Regions from separate parts of the Homo sapiens genome. Here region 2 is linked to region 1. The links come from fine-mapping of genetic effects on gene expression. Tissue or cell type: testis. Region 1 holds a variant in brackets; the other region holds the start of a gene. All regions are shown on one strand. Distances are between the middles of the regions.

Region 1 (5,267 bases):
CTACTGGAATAAAAGAACGCATGTGAAGACGTACTTATATAATCATATTCATTTCAGTAATTAATGCCAGCATTGCTTATAATACTTAAAAGTCAGAAACAACCTAAATGTCCATAATTTGGAAAATGTGTAAATAAAAGTGGCTCATTGATGGAGTGAAATGTTCATGCAGTTACTAAAAAAAAATAGATCTGCATATACTGATATACAATATATCATTAGTTTGAAGAAAAAGTCACAAATCAATGTACATAATATGATTAATTTAAAAAAAACAACATAGGAAAAGATGTGAAGGGATGTAGACCAAATTGTCAACAGCAGTACCTCTGGAAAGTGGAATTCATGGTGAGCAAGGAGGAACTTTTTACTTGATACCCCCTCCACTGTTTGAAGTTTCTCACTTATTTATTTTGTATTAACAAACAAAAAGGAAGAAGAGCTTCTGTACAAAATGATTAAAATAAATTTGTGAATGTCCCTTAAGTGCGTGAATATTCCTCAAAGGGTTAAATCTCAACCATTTAGAAAACTTATCCAGAAGACATGGTAGTGTAGTGGAGGTCTAAGCTTAAATCCAGCTTTGCTACTTTCTAGCTGTGTGGCCTTAAGCAGATTACTTAATCTCTCAGAATTTTCCTCATCAATGAAATTGAGAGAAAGTAAAGCTTATCTCATCAGTTTCTTGCAAAGGTTAAATGAGATAATGTATAATAAAACACCCAATACCGTGTCAAACAACATAGTAAGTGCTCAGCACATAGCACTTTCCTTCTCGGGGTGCTGCACTGTTAAGTGTTGCATGCCAGACCTTGGGTAAACACACAGTACCTAGACATCATTCCGCTCCCCACCCATCTGCTTTCCTGGTCTCCTCTCTCTGCTCTCCCTATCCTTTCCTTCTTGTTCGTGACCACTCCCTCTTGTCTTTGTCTCTTCTTGTCCATAGCTAGTCACTTCTTGTCTTGCTCCTTCTTGTTCATAGCTAGTCCCTCTTCTCCTTGATTCCGCTCATATTTGCACTGTTATCTGAGGAAATGTAACAGGCACTGATGGTAAATATGCTTGGTGAGATAGCCTGCTCAGCCATAAACTCTGATAGCATTGAACCTGTGTGCATTTTGTTAACCTGCCACATGGAGTCAGGGTGCTTGTATACCTGAAAAACACTCAGGAATCAATTCCTGTCAGTCCCAGGCCACTGCCCCTTGCCGGCAAAGACCTGCCTTCACCCTCCTGCCTACCATCCCTTCCAAGCAGGCCTGTTCATAGGAAAGGAGGGGAAGTGCCATCTAGTCCTTCAAAATAGTTCTTAATTTTAAAAATATTTTAAAATATATACCTGTATTCCTATACTGTGTGAGTATCTTCTACAAACTAAAACTCCTTCTTGCCAAATCTAATACTACACAGGAAATGAGGAATAAAAAAATGTGCAAAGATGTGCATGTATTTAGGAACAGATGACATTTAGTTGTAAAGATACTCTGCCCTGGTTGGTGTGTTTCCTTCTGTTTTAGTGTAGGATGGTAGTCCCCACTCAGCACAGCAGCCTGGCCTTGGAAAGTACCTGATGGCGGGAATCAGAGAATCCCCTTCCCCTTCTCTCCTTCCCATGAGCTCTGATATCTCATCTGAAGTTTCCTTTCTACCCATGTGACAGGTCTCCTTCCCTTCTTTCACAGAGCCTGGCAAGCTGTGAATGAGTCCACCAGGGTACAAAGCTATGAAACTTTTGAAGCTTTTGAGGCACCAACTCATTTTGCAAAGAGAAGACAATCATGATAGTTTACATTTGTATCATTTTTTCAAAATGCTTTTACATGCTAGTCTCAGTGGATCTGGAACTCCTGAAGTAGTCAAGATAAGTACAAATGATACAAATGATAGCTTAGGTTTGTTGAATGTCTATATGTGCCAGGCTCTTTGCTAAATGGGGGACATTTTTTTATGCTCACCACAACCCTCTGAGGCAGGTATTATCTTCATCTCAGTTTTGCATACAAAGGAAAACAATAGTTTGGAAATAACTTGCTAGGTCAACTTCTGACTCTAACCAAATTCCCTTTTCTGACCCCCAGCAACTAATGTTGACTAGAGTGTTTAATAAACTGCTGTTTATATTACATTACCATTCAGCTGTTAGGGATTGGAGACAGAATCTGAACTCAGGGAGTCAGGTTC[T/G]AGAATTAACATTTTTGAGAGAAAATGATAGAGACAGCTAGGAAATGAGGAGTCAATGAACTGGGGAGGAGAAAATTCCACAGGATAAAGGAATTTTAAGAATAGAAAAAAAATTAAGAATTTGAAAACTTGTAGTAAGCCTGAAAGAGCAAAGTTGCAACCAGGATGACTACAATCAGGACGTTTCTCTTTTTTGATCCTGTTCACATTTTCAGCCTGATTTGCTGCTTTGGGTCCTTTCTTGAAAACTCCACCTGCTTAGTTCTGTGCATGCCCAGTGTGGTTAGGTTTACAGAGAAGTTAGAGGATATAGGAAAAGAAAGTGGGTGATTTTTGCCTTTGAGATGGACTGTCTTGCTACTGCCTTTCCTTCCCAATCTGGAAAATCTGACTGCTTTTTAAGAGCCTGGCGCCTGACTTCTACTTTGGAAGATCAAGCTTGCTTGCTTGGGAAAAATTGGGATTTGTTGTCAGCAAGGCCCAAGCTCAAATCCTGATGCTGACACTTTTTAGGTATGTGATGTTGGACACGTGGGGGTGTGGCTTATACTCTGAGCTGAACTTCTGCCCACCTATATGAGCAGGGCTGTTGCCTAGCTGAGGGGGTTTGTGAGATTTAGAGACCAAGAATGTACATCACCCGGTGCATAATAGATGCTAAGGACCCACAGCAACAACTGAGATATGGGAGAAGAGTTTGCTGGGTTGTTCAGTACCTCTTCTCCTGGGACTCTTCCCGTGTGTGTGTGTGTGTGTGAAAGAGAGAGAGAGAGAGAGAGAAAGAGAGACAGGGCAGGGGGTGGACGTTTGAGGTCTGCACAGGATGCTGTGGGGCTGGCTGGCAGACCCCTGGAGAGAGTGTGAATGAGCTCAAGATGGCCAGAACTTGTTGAACCTGGCAGATATCAAGGCTTGATATTCACACAGGGATGAAATAGAAGAGAAGATAAAAGAGTACCCAAGCAGCAAAGTCAGTGCTGACGTTGGTAAAGGTGAGTTTTGTCACCCCAAATGTGGTTTGTCCACAATAAGGGCATTCATGGAAGGGGAGCTGAGTGATCACCTTTCTCCCCATTTCCCCTCCTCAAGGGTGTCAGATTCTGCAATCTTCAAAGCTACCCCACAGCAATTTCTGACTCTAACCAAATTCCTTTTTCTGACCCCCAGCAAACCTGGTCTCCCTGCTCCCAAATGCGCTACCTCTATACAGGTGATATTGACTAGAGTGTTGATTAAACTGCTATTTATATCAAATTACATTCAGCCAAATAAGGAGCCTACATGTTCTTTATTTTACTGTGTCAGAGTGACTGCACCAGTTATATTTTAATTATTGCTCACATAGCCTGGCCCCCAGCTCAAATTATTTGCAAACTTGTGAATACCAATTATCTTTTATTTAAAGAATAGCCAAGCTGAGAGGCAGGAGCACTGCTCAGGGACAGAATCTCGACTCTGACCCCCTTAGAAAAAACGAATGACCACAGACAAGTCCCTTAAATTTCCAAGCCTCAGATTTGTTGTACAGGAAGTGAGCACAGCTAATCTTCTCCCAGGTATCACATTTAGTATATAAAAGAATATATTTGAAGATGCTGTTGAACCTAAGATTTTATTTAGACCAATATCAGTGTTTTCCTCTCTCTTCTCATCGGTATGTGTGTTATGGAACAAAATAAGCCAGTGTTGACAATGGCAACCTATTCATTGTGAAAATCTTATCTGTGGCTGCTTCTACTATTCAGATAAAACTGTGGTTGGTGAGATCTCCAAGGTCTATTTCAGGTCAGTTCTGGAAGAAAAGAAACAAACAAACAAAAAACAAAAAACACACAAAGGGGTAGTCACAGAGAAAGAACAAGAACCAAAAATTAGATTAAGAAAGCCATGTTAGGCTTGAGATGCTGGTCACCGGCCCTTCCATTCTAATTGGCCTGATTTCTGGGACTCTACAGCTTACGGAGACAGCAGCTTTTTTTCCCAAAACCACTCAAGGTTTATTTTTAAAATGATATATATTTTTTTTTCATTTACAGCTGAGTGGGGAAGTCATCTATCTTCCTAAAAACACCACTTTCACTGTATTACTGTTCTTCAGAAAAGACTTCAGTGATGATCCATGGACAAGAAATTGAACTGGATTGTGATTTAGACTTCACCCCATCGCCCCACCTCCCACTCACCACCACCAGCCCCGCCTTATTTATCTTCTCTGTTTTCCATAAAGCTGGAGACACAGCTAGATTGGTTTCCCCCAGGTTACCCAAGTAACTGCCCCTTCCTAATAAGGCTCTTTGCTCCCTCCTTTCTTGCTTACTGAAACAATGAGTTTCTCTGCCTTCTTCCTACTTCTCATGCGTGATCTTAGTTCTACCTGCTTCTTGGAGCCTAGGTTAAATCATTTCCTTTCATGAAGTCTTCCTGCCCACAGCTCTCGCCTGCACTGCCGCAGAGTCTCTATCCAGCACATCTGCCATGGGGCATCTGCATCACAGCCCAGTCCTGGAGATAGGTGGTCAGGTCATTTCTGTGAGTGCCTGTCCTGAGCAGCATTCTGCTGTCTGTCTATGGATGTGAGAAACCCAGATGCAGGTGCCTATCAGAAGTTTAAGGGGACAGTCTTACAAGGGCTGTGACCAGTAGGTCAGGCAGGACCCAAGAATCATGTGCTCTAGCGTTCAAGACAGGCCCACCTAGCTGCTCCGTAGGATAATAACTACATTTGTTTTGTTTGTGGGAGTACCTTGGTCAAAATGAAGGTGGCTCCGTTTGAAAACTCTGTTGGAGAAAACCCCAACTCCAACCTCTTTCTCCTTGGCCCTCGTAATAAGGGGAAAAAAAGGAAGAGACTCACATACTGACACTAATGTGGCAGTGTATGTGCAAGGCTTCATGCCAAGGACAGTAGATTATCTCATTGCATTCTTGCAAGGACCTGATAAGGCTAGCACTATCATCATCTTCATTCATGGCTGAGAAACTAGCTCAGAGAGAGAGTAAATAACTTGTCCAAAATTCAAGTAAATATTAAAGTTTAATTTGAACCCAGCTGTATCTGAATCTAAAGCCTGTGTGTGTGTGTG
Region 2 (5,000 bases), 43 kb before region 1:
TTCAAGATCTAATGAGTTATGGGTAGAGTGGGTGTATTTTGAAGAGGATTCAAGAGATGAAGAAAGATAAATGCAAAGGGCTAAAGCCCTAACTATGGAATCTCACAACTTATAAATTATCACACATCACTAGATGGTTACTTCTCTGAAAAAAACCAGCTATTGTTTTTTTTAAATCTTAAATATTTAACTTTATTTTTCTGCCTACAGATGGGATTCAAATTGAAAAGCACACAGTAGAAAATACAAACTACCTATATTTCTGATTAATATTGTTTGTATACATGTATCATGTATAAAAGTGATAGCACTGTTCGTTCTGCATTTTTCCCCTTTAACTAAACACATTATGAATTGTTCTACAGTGGAATTTTAAATAATTACATGGTATTCCATTATGGATGTTCCATAATCATCCAATCACTTGTTTTTAAACACGTAAATTGTTTCTAAGATTTTCCTTATTAGAAACAATAGCAAGAAAAATATCCATCACTAAAACTTTACAAACATGTATTATTATATCTTAGAATAAATTCCTAAAAGGTGAATTGCTTGGTTAAAGGGCATATACATTTTAAAGGCTTTTGATATGTATCACTAGATTATTGTCCAGAAAGATGATATCACCACTAGTGCGCAACTAGGGTACAAATAATCCTCCCTTCTTAGCAAGATAGAGGGTTCTTGATTGCTTGCTTTTTAAAACTTAATATTTATCTCTTTGATAGAGAAAAAATGATACTTCACTGTTGTTTTAATTTGTATTTATTTCATCTCTTATGAGAACAGACATTGTTTAATGGCTATTACTGGTTCATGACCAATCTTCAGGCACTGTGAAACAAAAGGAATCTTAACAAGTTCAATATAGACAGCAGCCTATGGTTTTTTAGACCTCTGCAGACAGTGCTAGCATAATTAAGTAGTATCCCCTCTATGGTACCACAAAAATTATAAATTTTGAAATTCTTTTTTTCTTCATACAAGTATAACGCTTCAAAATTCCACTGGAGCAAAAGGAATCTTTACTGGAAAATTAAATTTTAATCTTCTGAAATAAAAGCAACAAAGCTTTTTCTCAAACCAGTAAGCACTGGGTAGATGAAAGTTACTTCGATTTTCAAAGAACAGTAATTATAAATACATAGTGACGGCCGGGTGCGCGGTGGCTCACGCCTGTAATCCCAGCACTTTGGGAGGCCGAGGTGGCCAGATCACAAGGTCAAGAGATCGAGACCATCCTGGCCAACATGGTGGACCCCGTCTCTACCAAAAATACAAAAATTAGCCGGGCGTGGTGGTGGGCGCCTGTAGTCCCAGCTACTCAGGAGACTGAGGAAGGAGAATCGTTTGAATCCGAGAGGCGGAGGTTGCAGTGAGCTGAGATTGCGCCACTGCACTCCAGCTTGGCGACAGAGCGAGACTCTGTTTCAAAAATAAATAATTAAAAATAAATAAATACATAGTGACTGGCGCCAGCTGCCACCACCCAAGAGAAGGGCGGGTGTGACTCCTTCCAGGAAGTCTCCACAGCATGGAGAAACCTTCTGGCGCACCACGAAGCGGGCAGGAAAGATTTTAGCTCTACCCCTTATGAATAGTGTGAACTTGGGCAAGTTTTTTAAGCCACAGTTACCCCATCTGTCAAAAAGAATGATGATGTCTTTCCAAAAGTCATTGTGAAGAATAAAATTCAATGAAATAGCACTAGTAAAGTACCCAGCACATCATGCATGTTCAATACATGGTAACTAATTTAATCACTCTACCTCCTTCCACTACCCAACCCTGCCCAGAATCTCCCATGGCCTGATTATGACATATTAACTGAGTTTTGCATTTTCTCCTTATACCTCTTTTTTCTCTTTCTTTTTCTTGATCTCTCTCCCTCTACCTTCTCTATCTCATTCCTCCACCCTCAGACCAAACTGACCCTGGTAGACAAAAAACATATTCCCTGTTATTTGTCATTCTTATGCAGATATTTTAAAAATTCCTGATTCTTCACTAAAATCAATGACTGTAACATTCAGTATTTGAATAACAGATTTACAAAACCAAAATTAGGCACCTAAAAATATATATAACTACCACCAATGAACTGCTTTGGGCATTGCAAATAATTCTTGCCTTTATGTGCCAAAGATCTTTTGTAGAAAAAGAAAGCTTCTCCACTTAGGAACTAAGTGAAGGACACACATCAAAGCACCATCTTCAACCTCAGCCTTTCACTGCAGTCACAACTCATAACTTCTCTGCAAAGAATAAGAATTATTACTCACCACTGGGGATCCATTTTGGCTGCTTCTGCTGTGACCTAATATCTGGAAATGACCCCACTCATCCGTGTGTCTGTGCTAGTCCCTGTTACAGCAGCAGAGAAGCAAAGCTTTCACCCTGTGCAAGCCTTCCTCGGCAATGACTGTATACCTACCCAGCTAACTTTCTTTAAGAGAAGCTGTTCCTCTTTTCTCTACAGATTTTGACCACACTTGAGGAAGAAATTTAACCCTTTCCTTGCAGTTTAAACTCATTGACGTAGGTCTATATGTATTAAAGAATATATAATTCAGTAGCTTGAGTTCCAGACATGACGTTAAGATGAGCCTGAATAAAAAATCTCCCCTCTTGAAATTCCCTCAAAAAACCTAGAAAATAAAATAATTAGAAAGAGAAAACAAACCTCCGCAGCAACAAAATAGAATAAAGAGGCATTCTACAGATTTTGATAAGATAATAAAAAGTGATTTATTGTGGATGTGGATTGGGAGTGAGTAGCCACCTAACCCTGCCAATTTCCACAACCAAAGTGTGGAGAGTTTCACTGAGCTGGGGTGGGGGGATGGGAGATGGGGAGATGTTCTGTAAGGACTGCATAACCAAGGAGGGCAGACAGAAGCTACTGCTTTTATTATTTCATTCCTACTATAGCCAAGGATTACATTGATGAAAGCGAATATTCTGAAACAGAAGTCTGAAAAAAAGGCAGCATTATAAAATTAATAGATGTCCCTAAGAGACAAACATAGAATTAATCAAGCAGAAACTATACTAGAAGATATTTCCTCGTATGAATTAAAATGGGCATCATCTAGAAACTCAAACTGTTTAGTGTATCAAAGCAAAAGTTATGAAAATCGATTCTCATCCAGACAAATCATTTTGAACATTTTAAATTCCAAAGGCAAAGCTAAAAACAAAATGAAAACAGAATGACTACAGAGAAACAAAAAACAACTTGGCATCTTACTCAACCCTAAATGGCAAAAAACAACAGAACAATATCTGCAGAATTTTGAATTAGCATTATCTACCTAGATAAGATGCCAGTTAAGTGTCAAGTCAATAGAAATATGTCACCAAGCAGGCAAGAAAACAACAACTGCAACAGAAATACCACCACCAAGACAGCCTTCCTAAATAAATTATTTAAGGATATATTCCAGAATAATAAATGAATTAAAATAGCCTTAAAATGGAGAAGCCATGGCTGAAAACACCAGTGCTGAGCTTTAAAGCAAGTTAAACATGGAGAAATAAGGCTAAATAATTATAAATTAGTTTAGACCAAAATGCTAAATAAGAAAAACTTATTAGAAGTAGATTACATATATTATTTCAAGGAAGTTTAAAAATAGCAGATGACATCACTGCTAACTAGAGCAAGGAAGCAAAATCAACACAATTATTAATCTTCAAATAAGAAGATAGAACAATGATTATTTTATCAACTTTGATAATTTCATCTGGATTTGAGAATTTTAAAAAATGAAGACAGCAATAATATAAGTTATCTATCTTCAAAATTATTGCAGAGCAGGAGTGCAAATAAAATAGTATTTATAACTACATAACACATCAGAAATAAGATGAGATAAAAAAATCCATGTAAACCTCATTTGTTATAAATATTAAATATTAAAGGTATGGGATGTCATTTTTCAGTTTCTTGGTAGCAGTGTACACACTCAAATTTCCATTTCTTGGTATCAATGCATACACTCAAATTTTTATTTAAGATAGCATAAGCATTTTCTCCTGTTATCATAAACTTTTTAGTAGTCATTAAATAGTACATTAATAGTACATCAAGTATACACTGTGAAAGCTGGCTGTAATGGCACATACCTGTAATCCTGGCTACTCAGGAGGCTGAGGTGGGAAGATTGCTTGAACCCAGGAGTTTGAGAACATCTTGGGCAACATAATGAGACCTTGTCTCATACACACAAAAAAGGTATATATTGTAGTAAAATTATCTTCCTAATATCAGACAGTTTTAGCTTTTAGTATTTTTATATTACAATTTTCTAATTAATATATTTAGTATATACATTTAGGAGTTTTTAGTATTTATTAGTTATCCATTGCTGTATAACAAATTATCTCAAAATTTATTTCCTTAAAACAATAAATGTTTAGGGATTGATATCCAGAATATATGATTAAAAAAACTCCTACAACTTTGCAGAAGAAACAACAAACAATTAAAAAGTAGGCAAAAGAGTTGAACAGACATTTCTTCAAGGAAGATATAGAAATGGCCAATATCACATGAAAATGTGCTCAAAACCACTAGTCATTAGGGAAATGCAAATCAAAACCACAGTGAACGTCAGCAAGATGGCAGAATGAGAAACCCCAGCCTGTGCTCCCTCCCAGAGAGACACTAACTTAACTATACACAGACCAATTCCTTTTGTGAGAAATCCAGAAGCTGGCTAAGAGGCTACATCACACTAGGTGAGCAAAAAAAACAACTGCACTGAAGCCAGTAGGAAAATTCACGGTATACCCTCACCATAGTCTGTCCTCTCGGCACAGGGCCACATGGTTAGGAGGAAATTCCCAGTTTTTGGCTTCTCCCTGAAGAAGAAATGAGAAGACTAGACCATATATCCAAAGTTCTGACTTTTTGGCCGGGCGCGGTGGCTCATGCCTGTAATCCCAGCACTTTGGGAGGCCAAGGCAGGCGGATCACTTGAGGTCAGGAGTTT

The links. PIP is the estimated chance that this variant, and not a neighbour inherited with it, causes the effect.
Region 2: it holds the start of CD86, and the variant in region 1 is fine-mapped to the expression of CD86 in testis (GTEx, PIP 0.98).

The regions. Positions count from the first base shown.
Region 1 is chr3:122,009,352-122,014,618 of GRCh38, reverse strand. The region is part of intron 1 of ILDR1 (immunoglobulin like domain containing receptor 1); the gene reads left to right. Among named protein-coding and RNA genes, the nearest start is that of ILDR1, 10 kb to the left of the region's middle. RefSeq lists an enhancer at 1,725-1,774. The variant T/G (reference allele first, on the strand shown) is at 2,185.
Region 2 is chr3:122,052,789-122,057,788 of GRCh38, reverse strand. It overlaps CD86 (CD86 molecule), which reads right to left and starts at 2,427. Exons shown (of 7, transcript NM_175862.5): 1 at 2,286-2,427. The coding sequence starts at 2,299. It also overlaps a transcript of ILDR1 not described here.